Linked DNA regions of Homo sapiens: region 1 is linked to region 2. A link means that fine-mapping ties the variant in region 2 to the expression of a gene that starts in the linked region. Tissue or cell type: monocytes. Region 2 holds a variant in brackets; the other region holds the start of a gene. All regions are shown on one strand. Distances are between the middles of the regions.

The links. PIP is the estimated chance that this variant, and not a neighbour inherited with it, causes the effect.
Region 1: DNASE1 starts here. The variant in region 2 is fine-mapped to the expression of DNASE1 in monocytes (Quach 2016, PIP 0.95).

The regions. Positions count from the first base shown.
Region 1 is chr16:3,650,064-3,658,152 of GRCh38, reverse strand. It overlaps DNASE1 (deoxyribonuclease 1), which reads right to left and starts at 3,462. Exons shown (of 9, transcript NM_005223.4): 1 at 3,109-3,462; 2 at 2,633-2,780; 3 at 2,216-2,304; 4 at 1,968-2,051; 5 at 1,400-1,515; 6 at 1,042-1,154; 7 at 812-966; 8 at 337-433; 9 at 58-247. The coding sequence starts at 2,779. The coding sequence ends at 200. TRAP1 (TNF receptor associated protein 1) reads left to right here. Exons shown (of 18, transcript NM_016292.3): 18 at 1-116. The coding sequence ends at 24. It overlaps LOC124903631 (a long non-coding RNA gene), which reads left to right and starts at 386. Exons shown (of 2, transcript XR_007064954.1): 1 at 386-456; 2 at 631-7,517. RefSeq lists enhancers at 2,230-2,757, 2,758-3,285.
Region 2 is chr16:3,868,422-3,876,524 of GRCh38, reverse strand. All of the region lies in intron 1 of CREBBP (CREB binding lysine acetyltransferase), which reads left to right. Among named protein-coding and RNA genes, the nearest start is that of CREBBP, 8.2 kb to the left of the region's middle. RefSeq lists silencers at 3,823-4,117, 5,023-5,317 and an enhancer at 3,951-4,486. The variant T/C (reference allele first, on the strand shown) is at 3,569.

The DNA of each region.
Region 1 (8,089 bases), 220 kb after region 2:
GTCAAGGCCCTGGAGCGACACTGACAGCCAGGGGGCCAGAAGGACTGACACCACAGATGACAGCCCCACCTCCTTGAGCTTTATTTACCTAAATTTAAAGGTATTTCTTAACCCGAGTGTGTGTTGGGCTTTTTTTCTGGGTCCTGTGGCAGGATGGGTCCTCTCTTCCTGCAGTTCAACTGGTGTGGGGAGGGGCTGCTCACTTCAGCATCACCTCCACTGGATAGTGGTCACTGATGGCTTGGGCCTGCAGGCAAGTGGGCACAGGGTCTGGGCTGAGCCTACCTGAGCTCCTGTGTCCCATCCTCATGTGGCTGTGCAAGGGAGGACACATACCAGTTGGTCACTCAGGCCATAGGCAGCCTGGAAGTTAAAGGGAAGAGCCGAGTCGGGAACAACGGCGCCTCGGAGCAGCATCCCTGCAACCACGATCCTGATGGGTGTTGGGAAGAGAAAGTAGGTTCCCCTTTCACACATGGGCCTGGCTCAGCACCCGCAGGAACTAAACTAAGAGCCCTGGGACCTGCCAGTGCAGGTCTGTGGGTGCCCAAAACTGCACACCCTGGTCTGTGCCCCTCAATGTGGAAACCACATGACAGCCTAGGTGTCTGCCTCTCCTCTTATCCCCAGATGTGCTTTTCCGAAAAAACCTAAAAATCGTGGCTCTTGTTATTCTGTTCCCTGTAGTGGATCAACTGAAGCTCAGTTGGGTGAGTGTTCAAAGGCTTTGAGGCTTCTGAAGCCCGACCTATGAGTCACGGCTGCCCTTGGAGGTGCCCTCAGTCTGCCCTAAGCGCGAGGCCCTGCTCACCTGTCATAGGCACAGTGCGTGGGTGTAGCTGTGGTGTCAGCGCTGTCGGGGATCAGCCACTGGAAGGTGGGGCTTGTCCACAGGCGGATGGATGACCACTGGGAGGGTCTCACATAGCTGCAGCCCGCATTGAAGTCGCCCATCAACATGACGTCCTACCAGGAAACGCTGCCTGTGGCCCTGGGACATGCGGAGGCCGCTGGTGCCCACTGCCCCTGGGAGGGCCTCACCTCCAAGCCCCATTTCTCTTGGACATCCAGGTAGACGTCATAGAGAGCGTCGATCTCGGCTACTGCGTCCCCCGGGGCCGCATGCAGGGGAACAATGGCAAACTCCCTGACCTCTGTGGAGACAGCCACGTCGTGTGAGGCACACTCCCTGGGGGCAGGTTCAGTCACCATGTCAGCTGGAACTATGTATCATGACAGTCCCCCCGGGGGGTGGATATTTTCCAAATGACTTGAATGGAAAACCCAAGCCCCAGGGACTGGGAGGGCAGTGTGTGACACAGGCATTCCAGGTTCCCTAGGAGGGGGTGGAGGCCATAAGCGCCAAGCCGAGCCCCACCCTGGCCCAGGCAGCACCCACCTGTGAACCGGGAGAAGAACCTGACAATGGCTGGCTCTCGGTTGAAGGTGTCGTTCCCGCAGGGCTCGCAGCCATCATCGTAGTAGTAGCTGTCCACCGCAGACACCTGGTCAGGCCTGCGGGAAGGCCGGGCAGGAGGAGGTGACCCCAGGCTGGAAGCTGCCCCACTCCTGCTTCCCAGGAGGCAGGCGTCGCGTCCCAGGCGACAGGAGGGCGGGGGAGCCAGGCACCTGCTCAACCCATTGGTCCGGGACCCAGGCGACAGGAGGGCGGGGGAGCCAGGCACCTGCTCAACCCATTGGTCCGGGACCCAGGCGACAGGAGGGCGGGGGAGCCAGGCACCTGCTCAACCCATTGGTCCGGGACCCAGGCGACAGGAGGGCGGGGGAGCCAGGCACCTGCTCAACCCATTGGTCCGGGACCTTGGGGTGTTTTCACTCCACCCTGGACCCTGCTCTGAAGCCTCAGGTTCTTGCCATAGGACAAACTAATAGGACAAACTACTTCCCTGCTCTGTTGGGGCCCTCCCAGGTGAGGGAGGGGCTTCCTGGCTTTCTAGACCACCCACCTGTACACGAACAGGTAGCGCTCCTTATAGCTGTTCCGTCCCAGTGGCTCACTGACCACGTAGTGATAGGTGTCTGGTGCATCCCTGGATTGAAGAAACAAAAGGTCCCAGTGGCGGGGGCCATAGGGGACCCCTCTGGCTGCCGATAGCGAGGCTGTGCCCAGGTCCCCACCCTTGGGGCCCAAGTGAAGTGAGGCTGTGCCGTGGACGAGATGTCACCTTCCTATGACCCTGCCACTGTCACCCACTGATTGAGGTTGTCCAGCAGCTTCCCCACGGCAGTCAGGTGGCTGTCTCTGACCTCCTGGACCAGGGCGATGTCATAGCGGCTCAGGATCTGGGGGCAGGGCCACAGTGGTGCTGAGCAGGGCTGGTGCCACCCAGGGACCCTACAGCGCCACAAAGGGAGCCACAGCTGATGCTCGTGGCATTGCTCGGTTTAACCGCAGCCTCATGTTTCTGCCTGGGCTCCTGCTGCCAGCCAGGGACAGCACAGCAGGGATGAGGACCTTGGTCCACAGCCAAGAGCCTGTTCCACCGTGCTGGGAGCAGTGGTGCTCAGTACCCCACACCCGACACCCTGTGGCTCCATAGGGCTGGCCCTGCCCACCAGCCCTAGACTCCAGAGCTCCTCTGCTTTTGGGGGGAGGCTGCCCTGGCCTCACCTGCACAATGTAGCTGACGAGGGTGGCATTGGACATCTTGGTCTCCCCAAATGTCTGGATGTTGAAGGCTGCGATCTTCAGGGACACGGCCCCCTGCAGTAGGGCCGCCAGTGCCAGCAGCGCCCCCAGCAGCTTCATGCCCCTCATCCTGGGAGAGCACAGGGCACAGAGACATAACAGAAGTGAGACGTCATCCCTGCCACAGCACTCCAGCCTTCTGGAGCCCAGCTGGCAGGGGCTGGTGGAGCTCAAGGTCAGGGGGACGCAGGCGGGGGAAACCCTTTCCTACAACGTCCAGAAAGCCAAACAGCTGGCACCACGTAGAGGACCCCGAGTCACTCCTCCATCCACCAGAAAACCCGCCCGGGAGGGACGCTGGAGCCTCCGCCTCACTCGCTGCTGGAGGATGAGACTCTAAGCCTCCCTCCCTGCTCCAAACCGGCCAGTCACCCAGAGGCACTCCACCTGGTGCTCACCTGAGATGATGGTGATGTCCTCAGAGATGACGAGAATGCTGTCAAGAATCTGGAATATCCTTTGATGACAATTTTCTCCTTTTGCTGCTTAAAGAAAAAAAAGTAGTCTATGAAGAAAGGTCTCTGAAGAAGCACTTCAAGGCCCTGGCAGTGCTGCTGGGCTCCGGATCCTGCACAGGCAGTGCGTGTCTGGGAGTTTTAAAAGTTCAGGCAGCTGTGACCTTCCCTGGGGCAAATGTGAGCCGTCACCTGAGAGTGCAGAAAACAATGGCTCTGTGTGGCTTTCCGCATAGGTGGGTTGCTAGCACGTGTTTCTTTCTGTAAGCACAGGTTTCTTGCTGCTGTAAAAACTGCACCTGATAATCACGTTTGCACTTAGTTTTAAAATGTCTGATAACAAGGCCAAAGGTTCCTATCCCGTGTCCCTTGCACGTGTGGTGGCCCCCATCTTCCAGGATAGGGCAGGGATGGGCCAGGTATGTGCGGGAGGGTGGGGCTGGGCTCCAGTCTCCCTGTCTCTTGTCTGGGGGCCCCAAGGTCACTTTGGACAAAGAGGCCAAAGCCACATCCAAAGTTGCAAATGGAGCCCCCTGGTGGCTGACAGCCATGACTGCTCTGTGGCCCAGGACACGCCTGCCTTCCTGATTCATCGCCATCAGGTGCAGGCAACTCTGCAGGAGGCTGGGGAGCTCGGAACAAGCAGTGGTGGGGGCCTGCAGCACCAGCGCCGTGGGGCCAGGACAGGTGGGGCCTGCAAAGCCCACCCCAATTGCCAGCCAAGCAGTGGGGAGCCTTCTTGAGGTAGACAATAGGCTGTGTGTTTAGGCCCAGGGGATCCCGAGTGACCAGGTCACAAGGGCAGGGCAGCAGCTAAAGGCCAGGCCTCAGGTCCAGTAATTTCTTGGTTCTTTTGTTTTGGGTTTTTATTGTTTTTGAGACAGGGTCTCACACTGTGTTGCCAAGGCTGGAGTGCAGTGGCACAATCATGGCTCATTATAGCCTCAACCGCCAGGGCTCAGATAATCCTCCCTCCTCAGCCTCCTGAGTAGCTAAGACTATGGGTACGGCACCATGCCTGGCTAATTTTTAAATTTTTTTGGTAGAGATGGGGTCTTGCTCTTTTGTCCAGACTGGTCTTGAACTCCTGGCTTCAGGCAATCCTCCGGCGTAGCCAGGACCACAGGTGCATGCTACCATGCTCAGTTTTTTTTTTTTTTTTTTTTTTTTTTTTTTTTTTTGAGGCGGAATCTTGCTCTGCTGCCCAGCCTGGAGTGCAGTAATACTATCTCGGCTCACTGCAACCTCTGCTTCCTGGGTTCAAGCAATTCTTCTGCCTCAGCCTCCCGAGTAGCTGGGATTACAGGCACGCACCACCACACCCGGCTAATTTTTGTATTTTTAGTAGAGACAGGGTTTCACCATGTTGGTCACACTGGTCTCAAACTCGTGACCTTGTGATCCGCCTGCCTCGGCCTCCCAAAGTGCTGGGATTACAGGCGTGAGCCATCGCACCCAGCCTATTTTTTAAGTTTCTCACAGACACAAGGTCTCCAAGTCCTGAGCCCAAGCAATCTTCCCGCAAATGCTGGGATTACAAGTGTGAGCCACCGCACCCCGCCACTCATTTCTTGGAATCTTTGACTTTCCATTCGTATTCATTTCCTGAGACTGGTGAAACTACCACAAGTTTGGTTGCTTAAAATAACAGAAATGGATCCTCTCAAAATTCCGGAGACTGGACGTCTGAAGTCAGGGAGTCAGTAGGACCTTGCGCCTCCTGGAGGCTCCGGGCGGTTGGGGGATGCTCCTTGCCCTCCAGTTTCTGCAGGCTGCCAGCAATCCTTGGCTTTCCTTAGTTGTGGCTGCATCACCCCAGTCTCTGCCTCTTCTTCTTAAGATCTGTGCACCTGCATTTGGGGTCCTCCCAGAGAGCAGGGAGGATGTCCTTATCTCAACAGCCTTTACTCACATCTGCAAGTCCTTTTTTGCTACAAAAATCAACATTCAGAGGTTCCAGGGCTAGGGCACAGCTATCTTTTGAGCCACCCCTGGGTCTTGCCCACTTGGAAGGGGCTGTGCTGGCCCTCCAAGGACAGCCCTGCACGTAGCATCTGTGGTCCCCCTGGGGGAGGAGGGCCTGGAAGGCTTGGCAGAAGTCCAGGCGGGATTCAGGTATGAGAACTGCAGGAAATGAATACAAATGGGGTCTGCAGGAGGCCTCAACGGCAAGAGTCAGCAGGGGCCAAGGTCGAAAGTCAGGAAAGTGCTCGGTCTGGCCAGCTGGCCATGAAGCAGAAGGCAGGCCCAGTGGGGACTAGAAACAGGAAGGTAAACCACCCTCCACAAGACTGGCACCCCATTCCATAAAGACACGCCAACAGACGCCTCTGGCTGGCAGCACTGGTGCACTCATCTGTCCCTCCTATTGAGACGGCGTCTACCAGATGGAAACACCACCACTCCTCAGGCTGCCAGAGGCCCCATTGCAGGCTTTTCCAAAGGTTTCAGCAATGGTTCTTCCCTGTTTTTAATCTCTAAGTCTAGGACAGCCTCCAGCACGTCAAAACCCAGCCCCCAAGCAAGGCCACCGGAGTATTCGGTGTAGGGACTAGTCCTCTGCCTTTGGTGTTTGCCTTTCCTGGACACACATCTGACAGCGACCCATCACGGGGAAGGGAGTAAAGCTAGAGGGCGGCCACTGTCCTCCACCAAGAAACTGCCTGGTGCAGCTTCCGGCGGGGCACAGGGACACCAATTATAGCTCACAGAGCAAGTGCCCAACCCCCTACGTGTGCTCAGCACGTGGGACGAGGGTTCCCCTCTGGTCTGTCATCCCCTCCTGGCTCTTGACCAAATGCTGCCCCATCTGCTTTCAGGAACTCCCAGGCATAGTGCCCCTGCTTCCTCTACCTGCCAGAAGGAAGGCTGGAACTTGGGCCTCGCTTGTACAAATGGCGAGTGCTGCCTGCTGTGTGGCTGCCCTCAGGACGGGCTTTGGTGAGGGCAGCACAGCCCTGGAGGAGCCTGGTCTGACATGGGGCCCGTCTGGGATCACTGTTGGGCCTTCAACCGTCTGGAGCCTCTATGTCTTCCTCTGATAGATTCCCAGAACAATCATTTCACCTTCTAAGAAGCCATCCTGCCCCTGCAGCCTGTGGCTTGTGGAGTCTCCAGCACTCTCACTTCTCCCTCGTGGATCTCTTTTCTGTCTGTGTCAGTCAATGCTGCCATGTAACAGCCACCTGCAAACTCAGTGTATACACATGCATTTCTCTCACACTGCCAGGTCTGCTGGGGTGGCTCTGCTGCCTGGGCCTCGTCCTGGGGCTGGGCTGGAGAGACTGCAGCTCCCTGGGCACCCTCTTCCCACAGTGTGGAAGGTGGAGGCTCCCAGGGCACAAGCAGAACACGTGCCGCCCTAAGGCCAAGGCGGAGCTGGCTGCTGTCGCTTCTGCCCACATTCCATGGGTGCTGTCGAGCTGTAGGTCCAAGCCCCACATCAGGGGAGTGAGTGGGGTACAATCCTCCCATGCTGGGCCCCACTCTGGAGATAGGCCTGGGGAATGCCCAAGAAGGAAGCCCAGCCCTTCTGGGATTTTCACATCCACAGAGAATGGGTGCTGGCAGCCAACGGCAACGAGGAGAAAAGCTGACCGCCTTCTCAGATCAGGATGAGGTGTTTTTACACCAACCCCGAGGATCTGCAGCCTTCTCAGGTTAAATTAAACCTGTCACAGACACAGGAAGGGAAAAGAGCACATAACAACAATTATATTGACATCTAAGCCAGGTCACATGCTCTGATTTGGCTGAAATTACAGGATAAAGGAAAAATCCTATAGGCACCATGGCTGGAAACAAATGGCCTCAAAGGAACGCTGGTGGCCGTGGCTTTGTGCAACGACAGCCAGTGTTGTGTGACCCAGCGACGTGCAGGCCAGGGAGGGTACCCTTCTACTGATCAAGAGGGAAAGCGGGAAGGACGCACAGCTGTGGTTTCCAACCTGCACGGAGGCACCCCCATGAACTCACAGAGCACCATCAGATCCTTCTGAATTTTGAAGGAAGCAATGATACTCTGCTCTGCTCAAGGCCATTCATGGTCTCAACATTAACGTTACCTTGCTTTATAGGGTATCTTCCCTCTCTCTGCCAGGCTGGGTTGTGGCAGTCACTGAACAAGCAATTACTGTGAAGGTCGACGTGGAAAAATGAGGCAATGAGGGTGGCGGTGTTCTACCAGATTCCAAGTTGAAGAGGTGCTCGACAGGCACACACATCCCATGACTAAACAAATAACATGAACATTTCTCTTTATGTATTACTTTTCTAGACATCCACTATAAGTTGCCAGGACACAAATGCTTATTATTGGGGTTTACTTATTTAATAAATGGAACTGTGGGGGATTTCTTTTTCTTTTCTTTTTTTTTTTTTTTTTGAATGACCATATAATCTGGACTTACTAACTTTAGGTAACAGTAAGTTAAAAGATAGAATAAGGTTTCATATTACAGGAATTCAAAAATTGACCATATAATAAATGATGAAGAAAACTAACAATAAACAGGACAATGTTCAAATAGCTCATTGGGGCCAAAAGATCAGCGTATATCCTGCATCATCTTTCATGCAATGTCTCAGCTTTTTTTCCCTCAAACATAAAGGCAGATTAATACAAATTAGCCTTATTTAGAATATTCATTTACGTTTCCTTCTGAAATTGATACTTGAGTGGAAGATGTATTAATAACTCGTGGTTTCTACTGAAATTTAAGATTCCACCAGATGATGCTCAGATTTAGACGATGCTAGAGTAAGACACTACTGGGTGATGATTTCAAAGTATGAGCTGCAGGTAAAATCTAAAAGGACATACATAATAACAAATGTTTTCTAATTTAAAAGACATATAGTAAATATCCATGAATTAACTCACACAACCTACTTACAAACAAAACTAGAATAAACAAAACTTGTA
Region 2 (8,103 bases):
AGCATATTGTGTCTTTCAACATCAGAGATTCATGATTTAACAGTATAAGACAAATATCCAGGCAAGCAGTAGACTTTTGTTTTTTGTTTTCTGGGTTGTTTTTTTTTTTTTTTTTTTTTTTTTTTGGTCAGCTTTATTGCAAAATTTGCACACAACAGACTGTTTATAAAGTTTTTTGAAATTGCAGGCCAGGGTGGTGGCTCATGCCTATAATCCCAGTGCTTAGGGAGACTGAGACAGGAGGATTGCTTGAGGCCAGCAGTTGGAGACCAGCCTGGACAACATAGTGAGACCCCATCTAAACAAAAAATTTTTTTAATTAGTTGGGTGTAATAGTACAATCCTGTAATCCCAGCTATTCAGGAGGCTGTGGCAGGAGGATCGCTTGAGCCCAGGAGGTCGAGGCTGCAGTGAGCTGTGATCATGCCACTGCACTCTGGCCTGGGTGACAGAGTGAGACCCTGTCTCTGGGGGAAAAAGGAAAAGAAAAACTACATTCTGAAGATTGAACATAGCTGTGTTTCATCCTGTGCTGTATAAGTGGCTCTAAGCAGTTGTGATTACATTTTATGACGTGAATCCTTTTAAATGCAATAGGGAAGCTTATTTAAAGAAAGCTGGTGGCGAATATGGTTGTCAACCAAATGGTCTGTTATGTATGTCTGGTACTTTATGTATCAGAGTGCTTTTCTCCACGTCACCTCAGTTTGATCCTTACAGCGTCCTGTGAGGAAGGGAAGATGCTGTTACTGCTATTTTCTAGGTGAGGAACTGGACTTGAGAGGTGATACAGGGTCAAAACCAGATCCAAACTAGATTGTTAAAGTCCGTAGCTCTATATATTTATTTTCTAAGTCTCTATCTGTAAACAATGCATTTACTTGAATCGACCCAGGAACCTGCCAAGCTTAGTGAGTTTCAGTAGCGGCCTTCCCGCACATGAATGAGATCACTAAGGGGGAGGTTTGTAACCACCTGTGGTGGGGGCAGCCAGGAGTGTATTCTTCCTCCTGGGTTAGGGCGTCCCCCTTTTCCCTCTGGTTCTGGTGTTATCCTCAGCGTGACGTGTGTGGGCTCGTGTTCCTGTTTACCTCAGGGAGAATGAGAAACGGTTATGTTACCCCATCAGTGAGTTCTGGCTAAGTAGGAATAAAAGTTGTCATAGAGACTTTTAGGACTAGGACATTTCATGACCGTGCTTCGTTTTTGAATAACTGAGAGGGGTGAGAGCGGTGGCCCCATTCAAAGGTCGTCAGGGATGAAGGTAGGCAAGGACAAGTCATGTGCAGGGCGCCTTAGAGGGCCTTCAGAAGATGGAAAGTCGCTCCTGGCTGAACATTCAGATTTGATTCTGTAAACAGAATTGAACATAACTTACAAAGAGACTGAGTCCTGCAGTTGGAAGTTGATGCTTAGATTAGTCGCCTGTGTTTTCACAGCTTCTAAGTAGTGTGTTGTAATTGTGTGGCAAAGTATGTGATTACCTGGGGGGTCCATAATTGCTGACTTGTGTTTTTACTTGATGTATTTGAAAACAGTTAGGAAAATGATTTTGCCAAAGTGTGTCTTACCTTAGTTAAGATGAAATGTACCTTATTGTGAGTTTCTGAAGATTGCAAAAGCTTGTCAGTTTAGTTTTTGGGGTCCCATTAGTGAGGGCACCCCTCTTTACCTTACTCAAACCAGCTCTTCACATGTATTCCAAGAAACTAGAGGGCATGCTAAGAGGTATTTCTCAACAAATGGTTTGTGCTCAGATGCTGTTGCTTGTAGCTGAGGAATTTGACTGCAGACTTTCCCAGAGCCTTGGTGTCCTGATTGGGCACTGTGAGAGAGGGGCTACAGTTGGACCACTCTCAATCCTGTTTGACGCTAGAACTCTTTTTAGCCTATTATGGGTCCGCAGACTTCCTCTGCAAAGGGCCAGAGAGCACGCATTTGGCTTTCTGAGCCATATGGTCTCTTGTTGCAACTACTCAAGGCTGCCATTTCAGCAAGAAAGTAGCCATAGGCGAGTGGGCCTGGCTGTGTTCCAGTAAAACTCTAGTTGTAAAGACTGGCATCTGAGGACTTCGCCCATGGGCTGCAATTTGGTGACTGATATAACGTGGGACTTCATTCTCTGAGCACCCGTTGGGGAGCACTGGCCTACCACGGCTGCACAGACAGCTTTAAGGAAAACAGCAGCAGGGCAAGTTTTCTGAGCTGCATGATGTGGAGCCCGGGAGAGCCCAGGTGAGCAGCAGGCTAGCTTGGGTCTCCTGTCTTGGAGCACTTCAGAGCTTAGCAGGGCCCTCTCTCTCTGTCTTTTTTGTTCCTCTGTAACAGTTATATGGATGACTTGATTTAAAATCAGACGAATTTATCAGAAAGCCTGGTGACCGGTTGCATTTTTCTTTGTTCTTTTGCTTTTTGTTGACCCCAGTGGCCCACATGGCATTTCTCGTCCGTCTTTGTCATCTCAGGCTCTAGGCTTGCTCCCCTTCCTGTGACACCAGAAGGTGAGCGTCAGTAAGAACTCCAGAGCCTTTCCACGGCCCTCTTCCCAGCACTTCCCTCCCCAGGGGCAGTGCCTGACACATAGTAGGCCCTCAGGAAATATTTGAGGGAATTAGTGAAAGAATTATATAGTATTTGTCCCTTAAAGTTCTTATCATTTTCTTGTTAAGGTTTTACTTTCAAGCAGATTGCCACCTATCTTCTAATTGGGTCTGTTATTTGCTTCCGAGTTCCGTACCCATGGGCTCCCACCCGGCCACCAAACCAGCTGGCCTTAGGAGTGCTGAGGCCAGAGCATGTTTGGGGCAAGTTACATCAGCTCTCTGAGCTCAGAGTTTCCTCATCTGTAACATGGAGATAATAACAATTCCCATCTCAGGGTGGTTATGAGGGTAGCCTGAGATGATGTGTGTCTGGCATATCCGCCCAATGGGAACTGACACTAGCGTTAACCAGGGACGTTGTCGTACCTTGTAAGTCCTAGGACTTACTGGGAGTGCTAGTCTGATTGGAGCAAGACCTGTTTCTCAGCAGTTCTGGAAAGGACAGAAGCCATGTGTGCTCGTATCCACAGAAACCAGTGTGCAGGCACGCGTGTGATAGTGTAGCACCTCAGCAGATACATAGCCGGGAATTCTGTCATCTATACCATTGACTCTGTCTCCATTTTTTATTGTATTTTTAAAAATAGGAACGTGATGGCCATGAAAGCTTAAAATTACGAAAACTTAAATGGTGTGTGTTCTGAATTATTTTTTCTTTTAAATCAAATCAGGATGTACACTGAAAATTATTGATAATTTTGAAGCATATTTCATGGACTGTTTAAGCAGCAGACAAGTATGTGATTCTGTTTGTTTACTGTGTATAATTTATCTTGAGGTACCTGTTAAGCATTAGCAGTGTACACAGGATTCTGATAGATGCCTGTGAGTACTTAGAACCATCTTGAGAAGATGAAACCTCGAGGCAAAACTTAAGGAAAGGGTACAGAAATGCAGTCAAGTGCAAAAACTCTGGAACCAGAAAGGGTGATCTGAATAAGGCTTCATTTACTCCCTCCCCTGTT[T/C]CCTGAGTGTCCCCGTGTGCAGAAGTCCAGGGCCGCATGCCCCAGTGGGAGGCAGGCCCTGGGATGGTTGAGGAGCCTTGGGCTCCTGTGACAGCTCTTCTGCTGAGCCAGCACAGAGCCAGGAGTTGGGGAAGCCTGCCTGTTTTCCATGCATTCCTGGTTGTTGGGAAAAGCACCCTGACCATGACAGTTTGTTTCCTGGGGTATCGTTGTAGGCCCATGGCTTGCTCACATCTGAGTCCTCTTCTGGTTGTCCCGTCTCTCCTAGGCTCTGAAGCTCCTGGCCGTGCCGTCTGCTTTTTAGCACATGCGCTCAGCGTTCCCTTTAGTCCTCTCTGAGGTCTTTTCCTTGCAGTGCATCCCTCCGGATACACTCCTTGCTTTAACTGGAAAAGGATGCTGCTCTTCTCAGTCAGGCTCAAACTTGGCTTTCGGCAAAATTCTCCTATTGCATGAGTCTTTGATGCAGAAGTGTAAGCCTTGGGAGCAGTGCCTGTGGGGGCTTTTGCCTGTTCTCCTTTCCCTGGGGCCGTGCTCTGCTGACAGGGGTGCTACAATAGGCCACGAGCAGAGTCCCCGGGGCGTCCTGGAGTGGTCAGGTCTTTGCCATTTGAGCTGTGACTTGAAGAGATTTGAGCAAGGGCACACAAATCAAATTGGGCAAGGCTGTGTGAAAGGCATGGAAGTAAACAAAAGTGGCCCCTCTCTTTTTAAAGTTTTTTTTATTAAGTTCCTAGACAATATAGGCGGTGACTGTGGCTGTATTTAAAATACTGCCTTTAGGGTGTTTTCTGGTTCTAAATTTAGGAAGCAAGGCTATTTTTGAGCTCTGTCTCTAAAAGTTGAATTCCTTTTAAAACTTACCCTTAAGAAAGATTTGGATATTATCCCGTGTGACATTTTCCCCGGTGTTTCATTTCCATTAATCAAAAGACTGTTTAGTTGAACCATTGCTAAGAATAGTAAAATCTAATGGGGAAAATAATTCTACATGATTAAATCTGACTTTACTTTCCCATTTCTAGTTGTACTGTCTGCTATTGTTTGAAAATGTCTTAATTTGCCTTTCTAATATGCCTGTACTATATTGTATACAGTAGGTATATTTTCCAGTTGCACCTAATTCAACCTTTCGAATTTGCATAATCTGTGGTAAGGAGAAAAAGTAGTTGTGTAGTGGAGTTGTACAATTCTGTTGTAAAGCAAATCTTTTTATAATTCACAAGCTGCTTCTCCTCCCCCTAGTTTGGATTTTTCTTATTAAAACTGCACCACCTAAACATGTTTTAACTTTATGGTTAAAATAACCAGTGAAATAGAAAAATAAGTCACTGTTCTGTATGATAACATGTAGAGAAGGCTTGTACAACATTTAAATAAGGAGATTTGGGTATTTGATTACAAACTGAATGAGGACATTCAGGAGCTATAGAAATTTATCAGGTAATTAGGGTTTGCTTAGACAATTATAGACTCTACGAGTTTGACCCAGTTGCTTTGGATTAAAATATTTTGAGTATTTGTCACCTGATTAAAAGTAGAACCTTCTAACTGTGAGTCACAGTTGAAGGAAATGTCAGCTTTTTATACGGGGAGGCGGTCAGTGTGGTGCTGAGGAGGGAGCCCTGGCTCCTGCTCAGAGTAGACTGTGAGTCCCAGCTCCCAGCTCGGCAGCGCTGTGACTTGGGCTGGTGACATCACATTTGAGTTTTGCAGGGTGGGGTGTGTGTGTGTGTGTGTGTGTGTGTGTGTGTGTGAGTGAGAGAGAGAGAGAGAGAGAGATCTCTAAAAGGGGCTTTTTACCCTGCAGTATTCCATTTGTTTCTTTTCTTTCTCTTCTCTCTTCTTTCTTTCTTTTTTCTTTCTTTCTTTCTCTTTTCCTTCCTTCCTTCCTTCTTTTTTTCTCTTTCTTTCTTTTCCTTCCTTCCCCTTCCCCTTCCCCTCCCCTTCTTTACATTACTTTTCTTCTTTCCAATGGGGTCTTGCTTGCCCAAGCTGGTCTTGAACTCCCATCCTTCAGCAATCCTGCCTCGGCCTCCTGAGTAGCTGGAATTACAGGTGTGAGATGGAGCCACTGTGCCTGGCTCTACTTCTGCTTACTTTGATTATCTTGGTACATGGGGCTACTAGGGTGCCTGGCATATAGCAGGTTGAGGCAGCTGTTTTTATTGTTTAATTGTATGGGAAAATATTAGCCATCACCTACTTCTTGGGCCAGTGAGGACTAAGATGATGTAGCCTGACCCGGAATCAGGAGGCTTCTCACTGAATACATGGGAAGCTTCTGCCCCTGCCTGTTTGGCTTTCAGTGCCAGCTCTAGTGCAGTTTGGGAACCAGTTTGTAAGAAAACGAACTAAGATTCGAGAATCTTACAAAATGGGTAATCGTTTGACTCATTTTACTCCGTCTGTGTTTGCAGTTCAACTGTTTTTTATTGGAAAATTGAACTCTTAATTAAATGGAACTCTGTTTCTAGTTATTGCTTCAGAACAAGGGCTTGATTTAGATTAGGACTTAGAGAAAAGGGAAAAGTAAATGCAGAGAAATTATAAATATAGTATTTTATTGAAAACAGAGTTGGGAAGAAAATGGCCTTGGGATCACTGTCCAGTTTAGTCAGGTTGGTTGAAAGGAATACCAGTGAAACTCAATTGCCTCTCGGGCTCAGCTACACAGATCTTGAAAGGAACAGATTCAGCTCTGTGCTGTACTGTGTGACTTTTCTCCTCCTGCAGATTCTATAGTAGGAAATTCTTTTAATGGAGATTACTGTTTTTCTGTTCTCCTAGATTTGGTGTGATTTTTTTTTTTTATAAGTAAAAGTTACCCCGTGGTGGACAAAATTTTTCCCCGATTTGTGGATATCTTTACTTAAATCTGATTTACATATTCAGAACGTCACCTTTATTGAAAATAACAAAAAGACATAACATATTGATAGGTTTTCTGTGTCATTGTGGTTGTTCCTCTACTACTGTGGGAATCGGTTTTTGTTTGAAGAGCACACCTGCCCGTAGTTGAACTTCTGTTGAGAAGTCTCTGAGGGAATCATTTGAATGATGGCAAGAGAATCAAGTGTTTTGCTTTCACTGATGGCTTTCTCAGTCACTGAAACTTTAGGGGAGAACGGATTCTTTCCCAGGAGGAAGAGGGTGAATTGAGATGTTTCCTTGTTTGGGGATGCCTGTGTTCTCGGGATGCCCTCCAAGCCAGCGCTGTCCAGTGGTCGTTATTGGGAGGGCGGCTCTACGCTGTGTCTATATGACACAGTACTGGAACCACGAGCCACGTGTGGCTGTTGAGTACTTGAATTGTGATTAGTGTGACTTAGGAACTAAATTTTAAATGTTACCTGGTTTGAGTAAATGAAGATAGCCACATGTAGTTAGTCACTACGGTATTGGACAGCACAACTGTAAGTACATTTACTTATCCTCTTTGTCTAGAGTTTTCTTTAAGATACGTATCACCTAGATATTTATGACAAAGTTCCTTTAAAACGATCATCTTTTAAAGATGCAAGACTCCAAATTAAAAATGATGAAAGACTCCTTCAAAAATATTCACGGCTTAGGTCACACTGTTCAGGATTATTCACTAATTTAGAAAATATTTGTTATGCTGTGATGTAGGCCCTGGCGATCCAGTGGGGATGTGACAGGCCCCATCTCTGCCCTCATGGGTGGTGATGGATACTGGACAGGTAACTGCAGTCAGGTGTGACCTTGGAGGGGACATACTGTGCATTGACTGAGGCACCAGATGGGGACTGAGCCTGTTTTGAAGGGTATTGGAAGTCCCCGGGGGCTGTGACGTTAGCACTGACACCTGAGGGTGAATAGGAGATGGCAGATAGTACTGTTCCAGGCAGAGGGAACAGCACTCATAGCAGGGTGGAGGTCTGGCTCTTGTGACAGTTTTTGGGTTATGTTCACTGGGCTACCAGAATTTAGGAGGCCTCATGGTTTTGCTTCTGAGATGGTGGAGACTAAAGGTGTGGTTCTGCCCTGCGGGGGTTGGTCGGCCCGGGATCCAGTCTTGACTCCTACCACTTCATTCTTTTATTCAGCAAATATTTAAGCACATTTTACGTGTGGGGCACCCTGCTGGGCTGTGGTGATGACAGTAGTGGCAGAAGCTGCTTCTGTCCTCATGGAACTCTGAGTTGTGTGGTGTGGTGGGTGAGCAGTCCCGTGGTGCCCACCGTGGCCTATAGCATTTCACACTCAGCTCGATGTCTGACTGGAAGGAAGTGGATGCCTCAGGCTGGGTGGTCAGGGAGGCTTGTTGGAGGAAGGACACCAGAGCTCATTGAGGGTGAGTAGAGCATCAGCTTGGGCATCTGAAGGCGAGATAACATCACCAAGGGCCTTGAATGTCAGACCTAGGAGTCCAGGTTATTATTTTTTTTTAGGGCTTATAAAACAAAATTAAGCTTTAAAAAACCCGTGTCCAGAGTGATTGGGGGAGCTCCTGTGATTTATTTTCCAGAAGTCTAGATTAGCTTTTTCAAGGTGTGTTTTTTCATCCAAGT